Linked DNA regions of Homo sapiens: region 2 is linked to region 1. Evidence: fine-mapped expression QTL. A gene starts in region 1. The other region holds a variant in brackets. All regions are shown on one strand. Distances are from middle to middle.

Region 1 (2,908 bases):
AAAGAGGAAGTGTGTGTGGCCCTCACTACCCTACTATCCCTCTCCCATGTGGCTGCCTCTGTGGAATCCACCACATTTGCAGAGGCCTGCAGGGGCATGGGTGTGAAGCCCTCTCAGCAGGAAACACACCTGCATTCACACCCACACACATGTCCAGAAGCCAGTGGGTCACAGGGATGGGTCAGACTTGGATGCAGGAGCCCCCATTCGAAGCCAGATTAACGGTCCTCTACAGGTCCTCCAAGGAGGCCCCAAGCCCTCCAGAGCTACACAGAGCACCTTTTCAGCTGGGACGGCATTGCCAGGATTGCGTAAAGAAAGAATGTACTTCCCACTGTGGCAGTGGTGGTTGCACCATGAATCCAGAGCCACCCTGCAAGGGCATTCCCAGGACTTCTGACCGAGACATGTAGACGCTAGCTCCCTGCTAAGCTCACACAACCACGGTGCTCCAGTCTTTGCAAGTGGACACCACAGAGAAACACCAAAGGGAGGGGGCTCCCCAGGGACTGGGTCCATTTCTCAGCTCAGCCCAGTAGGCAGGGCCTTAAGGACAATCCCAGCAGACCAAGAGCTCAGATCTGGGCCACGAGTCTTCTTAGGAATAGGGACACAGATCCTGAGCACATCTACCAGTCCCCACTCCAGCTTGAACCCCCCAGTCCCCACTGTCGGCAAGCACACCGCTCTCAACATATTCCACACACATGAGCCCGTCACAGTCCCAAGAGTACTACACTGTACACAGCACATGTACACACAGCACACGGTTCCCCATGCCACACACTGCGCTGACACACGTCCCAGGTCCCCCCTGTGCCGACGCATCTTCCCATCCGACAGAGGACCCATTTTAATGAACGCGGTACACACAGACACTGAAAAGTCCTGCTGTCCTCAGCCTACATACACACACAGCGCCCTGCAGTCCCGCACAGCCAGCACACCACACCGGCCTGGACACAAACTGTGCCCACACAGAGCTCCCGACCAGAACTCAGCGACTCCCGCCCCCGCCGTGCGGCCTGCGCTCCCGCCCCCCGCGTACTAAGCCGATCTCCACCTTGGACTTCCCGGCCCCCTCTTTTCCCCTCCAGCTCCTGTTCCCCAACAACCCCACCCCCGGGCTTCGGGAAACTTTTCTTCAGGTCCCTAAAAGGGGACACCTGGAGTTCCTCCGGTCCCGCCCTGTCCCCGGACACGCGCAAGCCGCCCTTTATTTCCCAGCCCAGCTCCCGCCAGACCCAGCGGGGAAAGGTCACCGTAGGCAGCCCCCTGCCTGCGCCCTGGGGGTGGTGATAATAACAGCTGTCACCGGGGGATGGTCGGGGGGAAGGGAGAGGTGTCGGCCCCGCGCCGAGCCGGGGGCGCAAGGTGGTCGCGGTGACGCGCCGGGGAAGCGCAGAGAAGCAGCGGCGGCGGCGGCTGCGCCTTCCGAGCCCGGGCGGCGGCCGAGGCACGCGGAGCTGTCCGTTCAGCACCACCGCGCCGCGCCCCGCGCAGGGCGGGCGCCCCGTCACACCCGCTCTGCTCCCGCCCCGGCTCACGGGGCGAATGCGGCGCGGGTTCCTGCCTCTCTGGGTGGGTGAGGGGCGCGCGGATCCGGAGAGGGGGCTCCGGGAGCGGCGGGACCACGCAGCCACCTGTGAGCCTTCGGCAGCTGCGGGCGGCGGCGGCGTACCCGGCCCGAGACGGGAGGAGACGCTCGGCGGCCCCCGCCCGCCGGCCCGCCGGGCGCACACACTCGCACCCGCGCACGCACCGCCAGCAGGCAGCGGCCACCGCCGCGATGCTCGCCCGCGGGTTGGGGAAGTTTCCCGCCGGCCTCGGCCGCGGGCACCCGTGCTCCCAGGTAAGCGCTTCCAGAACGCGCAGGGCGAGCCCGGGCAGCCCCGCTGGGTGAGGCGCAGCGCACGCGGCCCCGGGGCATAGCGCCAGGCCGGCAGGGAGACCTGGGCCGGGGACGCGGGGGCTGCAGGCGTGGGATCTGGACCCAGGGGAGGCCGGGCCGCCCCCCTCATTCCCGCGGCCCGGGTTTCCAGACTCCAGCGCATCCCCCCCACCCCACCAAAGCTACGCGCCCCCCGTGTCGGCCCGGCCCTGCCCGTGCGTATCTCAGCTCCGGTCCCGCCTGTCTGCGGCGAGCGGGCGGGGGCGTCTCCCGGGCCTGCCCATGGACAAGGTCAGCATGCAGCCCCCTGGGCGCTCAGAGCCGCGGGGACGCGACCCCGCACGCGCAAAGCGCCCACCGAGACCCCTGGGGTGGAGCTGTGCTAATAGAAACATACCCACCCCCAGCCTTTCCTGGGAGGGGATCAGACCCCTCAAACTCTTGCCCCAGCCCAGCCCTTCAGCACCCAAGACCCACCAGGAGGCCTGGGCCCGCCAGTAATGGGTAGGGAGAGGGGGCCCCGCCAGGGCGCACGGCGCTCTCGCCGACGCTGTTCCCTCCGCTTCCAGGTGTAGCGCCCCCGCGCGGCGCGGGCGGCCGGCGCCTCCAGCATGACCGGCCAGAGCCTGTGGGACGTGTCGGAGGCTAACGTCGAGGACGGGGAGATCCGCATCAATGTGGGCGGCTTCAAGAGGAGGCTGCGCTCGCACACGCTGCTGCGCTTCCCCGAGACGCGCCTGGGCCGCTTGCTGCTCTGCCACTCGCGCGAGGCCATTCTGGAGCTCTGCGATGACTACGACGACGTCCAGCGGGAGTTCTACTTCGACCGCAACCCTGAGCTCTTCCCCTACGTGCTGCATTTCTATCACACCGGCAAGCTTCACGTCATGGCTGAGCTATGTGTCTTCTCCTTCAGCCAGGAGATCGAGTACTGGGGCATCAACGAGTTCTTCATTGACTCCTGCTGCAGCTACAGCTACCATGGCCGCAAAGTAGAGCCCGAGCAGGAGAAGTGGG
Region 2 (2,908 bases), 120 kb before region 1:
AACTGGTGTGAAATGGTATCTCATTGTGGTTTTGATTTGCATTTCCCTGATGGCCAGTGATGATGAGCATTTTTTCATGTGTTTTTTGGCTGCATAAATGTCTTCTTTTGAGAAGTGTCTGTTCATGTCCTTTGCCCACTTTTTGATGGGGTTGTTTGTTTTTTTCTTGTAAATTTGTTTGAGTTCATTGTAGATTCTGGATATTAGCCCTTTGTCAGATGAGTAGGTTGTGAAAATTTTCTCCCATTTTGTAGGTTGCCTGTCCGCTCTGATGGTAGTTTCTTTTGCTGTGCAGAAGCTCTTTAGTTTAATTAGATCCCATTTGTCAATTTTGTCTTTTGTTGCCATTGCTTTTGGTGTTTTGGACATGAAGTCCTTGCCCATGCCTATGTCCCGAATGGTAATGCCTAGGTTTTCTTCTAGGGTTTTTATGGTTTTAGGTCTAATGTTTAAATCTTTAATCCATCTTGAATTGATTTTTGTATAAGGTGTAAGGAAGGGATCCAGTTTCAGCCATATGTAGAAAGCTGAAACTGGATCCTCTCCTTTTCTTTGAGACAGGGGCTTGCTCTGTGCCCCAGGCTGGAGTATAGCGGCACAATTACGGCTCACTGCAACCTCGGCCTCCTGGGCTCACGTGATCGTCCCACTTCAGTCTCTCGAGTAGCTGGGACTACAGGGGACTACAGGTGTTCACCAACACACCAAGCTAAGAAGGCTAGCTTTTATCTTCCACACGTTTAAAATATACCTTTTTTAATTTTAATTTTTATTTTTTTGAGACAGCATCTTGTTCTGTTGCCCAGGCTGAAGTGCAGTGGTGCAATCTCGGCTCACTGCAGCCTCCGCCTCCCAGGTTCAAATGATTCTCATGCCTCACCTTCCCAAGTAGCTGAGATTATAAGCACGCCACCACACCTGGCTATTATTGTGTGTGTGCATTTTTATGGAGATGGGGTTTTGCCATGTTGGCCAGGCAGGTCTCAAACTCCTGGCCTCAAGTGATCTGCCCGCTTCGGCCTCCCAAAGTGCTGGGGTTACAGGCAGTGCCACCAACATATATATTTTTATGGGAACTTTAGAGAGATGGAATATTTAAAGAACTTTACATGTAAGAGGACTAAGATTCAAATAATGTTGCCACAGTTTAGTAGCTCCATGATCTTGGCTGGGTTATTTCACTTTTCTGGGATTCAGTTTCCTCAGTTGTAAAATAGCAACAGGCCAGGTGCAGTGGCTCACGCCTGTAATCCCAGCACTTTGG[A/G]AGGCTAAGGCAGGAGGATCTCTTGAAGCCAGGAGTTCAAGACCAGCCTAGGCAACAAAGTGAGAGACCCGTGCCATCCCCCCCCACACCGCCCCTGCCCTCTCTCTCTAAAAAAAGAAAGTTAGCCAGTGTAGTATGTGTATAGTGGTTAGCTGTGGAACACTGCATTCAGGCAGATCTGGGTTTCAATTCGGGCTCTGTTTCTGACCATCTGTTTGGCTTTGGGCAACTTATTTTACTTCCCAATCCTCAGTTTACTCCTTTTTACAGGAATAATAATAGTTCCTGCTTTGTAGGGTGATTGATTAATGAGGATTCCAGGAGACAAGGAATTAAAAGTGCCTGATACAGAGTAAACATTCAATACATTTAGTCATGATGAAAAACAAATAAATATCAAATGTCATGCTTCCCTATCCATTCTCCTCCAAAGACAGCAGTAGCAGAAACTCTCCTGATGAAGGGAGAGACTGAATCACGTAGCTAGAGAGCAAGCTTGAGGAGGGCAGGACCACCTTTGCCTGGTTTATCCTGTAGCCCCAACACCTAGCACAGTGTCCAGCACATAGAGCACTAGGAAGAAATCCTTTACAATGGTGCAAACAAGACAGAGATGCTCATAAATCATTCTACCTTTACAAGATATGCTTACGTTTCAGGTTTTCAGATTTGTTCCATTGCTGCCTTAATAGCTCCACCTGTTACTGAGCCAAACCTGGGTCCGCTCACCCTGCACACTAAAGACAAACACCCTCACCGAGGTTTGCAGTGAGGGAAAGGAGGGCATTTATTTACAGGACACCAAGGAATAAGAATTGGGCAGCTTGTGCTTAAGACTGCCTGCTGACTTACAGGCAAAGGTTTTTAAAGGCAGGGGTACACTTCAGGAAAGCAGAAGTGAAATCATAAATCAGCACATGGAGGTTAGAGATTGGTTTGGCCTAAAAAGATAGGATATCTTGAAGCAGGGGCTTACCGGTCATTGGGGGATTCAAAGATTCTCCGGTTAAGGAAGCAAAGCTTTGTCTAAAAACTTGGGGTCAGCAGAAAGGAATGTTGAGGTCTGGCCTCTGCATGTGACTCTTCAAGTCCCCTCAGGAAGAAATTTAGAACAAAGAATGGCACTGAGTCCTCACTTCTCCCTTACCTGAGGTCTATGTGCCAGTGAACGACATTTTCCATTTGGTGGGGGGTGTGAGTTTCTGAAAAACAACTCAGGGACATATGTGAAGATGTTATCTTTAGTTCTTCTTTTTTAGAGACAAGGTCTCCCTATGTTGCCCAGGCTGGTCTTGAACTCTTGAGCTCAAGGGATCCTCCTGCCTTAGCCTCCCAAAGTGTTAGGATTACAGGCATGAGCCACCATGCCCGACCTGTCTTTAGTTTCTATAGGGAACCGAACATCTTGTGGCTCTAACTTCCTTTGCTATTGTTTTCAGCAATTATTACCCTCTTGCTTATCAGGTTGCTTATTTACATCTCAGGGCTGGCTAGGTGTTTGGAATTTCCCTTGAAGGAACTCCAGATTTTCCTTTATTTCCATGCTTGGGGCAGGGTGGCAGTCCCCTAAGAAGAGTCTCTGCTCTGTCTCACACCCAGGAGGACATTCAGAAATGTCCAAATCTCCTCTTAAGTCTAGACCAG

Direction of the effects. Positions count from the first base shown, and alleles are read on the strand shown. Sizes are in standard deviations (SD) of each study's normalised expression.
For the expression in fibroblasts of the gene that starts at base 1,481 in region 1, allele G in region 2 goes with a higher level than allele A (small effect, 0.21 SD a copy in GTEx).

The links.
Region 2: its variant is fine-mapped to the expression of KCNS2 in fibroblasts (GTEx, PIP 0.98).

Annotation. Positions count from the first base shown.
Region 1 is chr8:98,425,478-98,428,385 of GRCh38, forward strand. KCNS2 (potassium voltage-gated channel modifier subfamily S member 2) reads left to right here and starts at 1,481. Exons shown (of 2, transcript NM_020697.4): 1 at 1,481-1,852; 2 at 2,461-2,908. The coding sequence starts at 2,503. It also overlaps a transcript of STK3 not described here. RefSeq lists a silencer at 1,381-1,580.
Region 2 is chr8:98,307,846-98,310,753 of GRCh38, forward strand. No RefSeq gene overlaps it. Among named protein-coding and RNA genes, the nearest start is that of NIPAL2, 15 kb to the left of the region's middle. The variant A/G (reference allele first, on the strand shown) is at 1,265.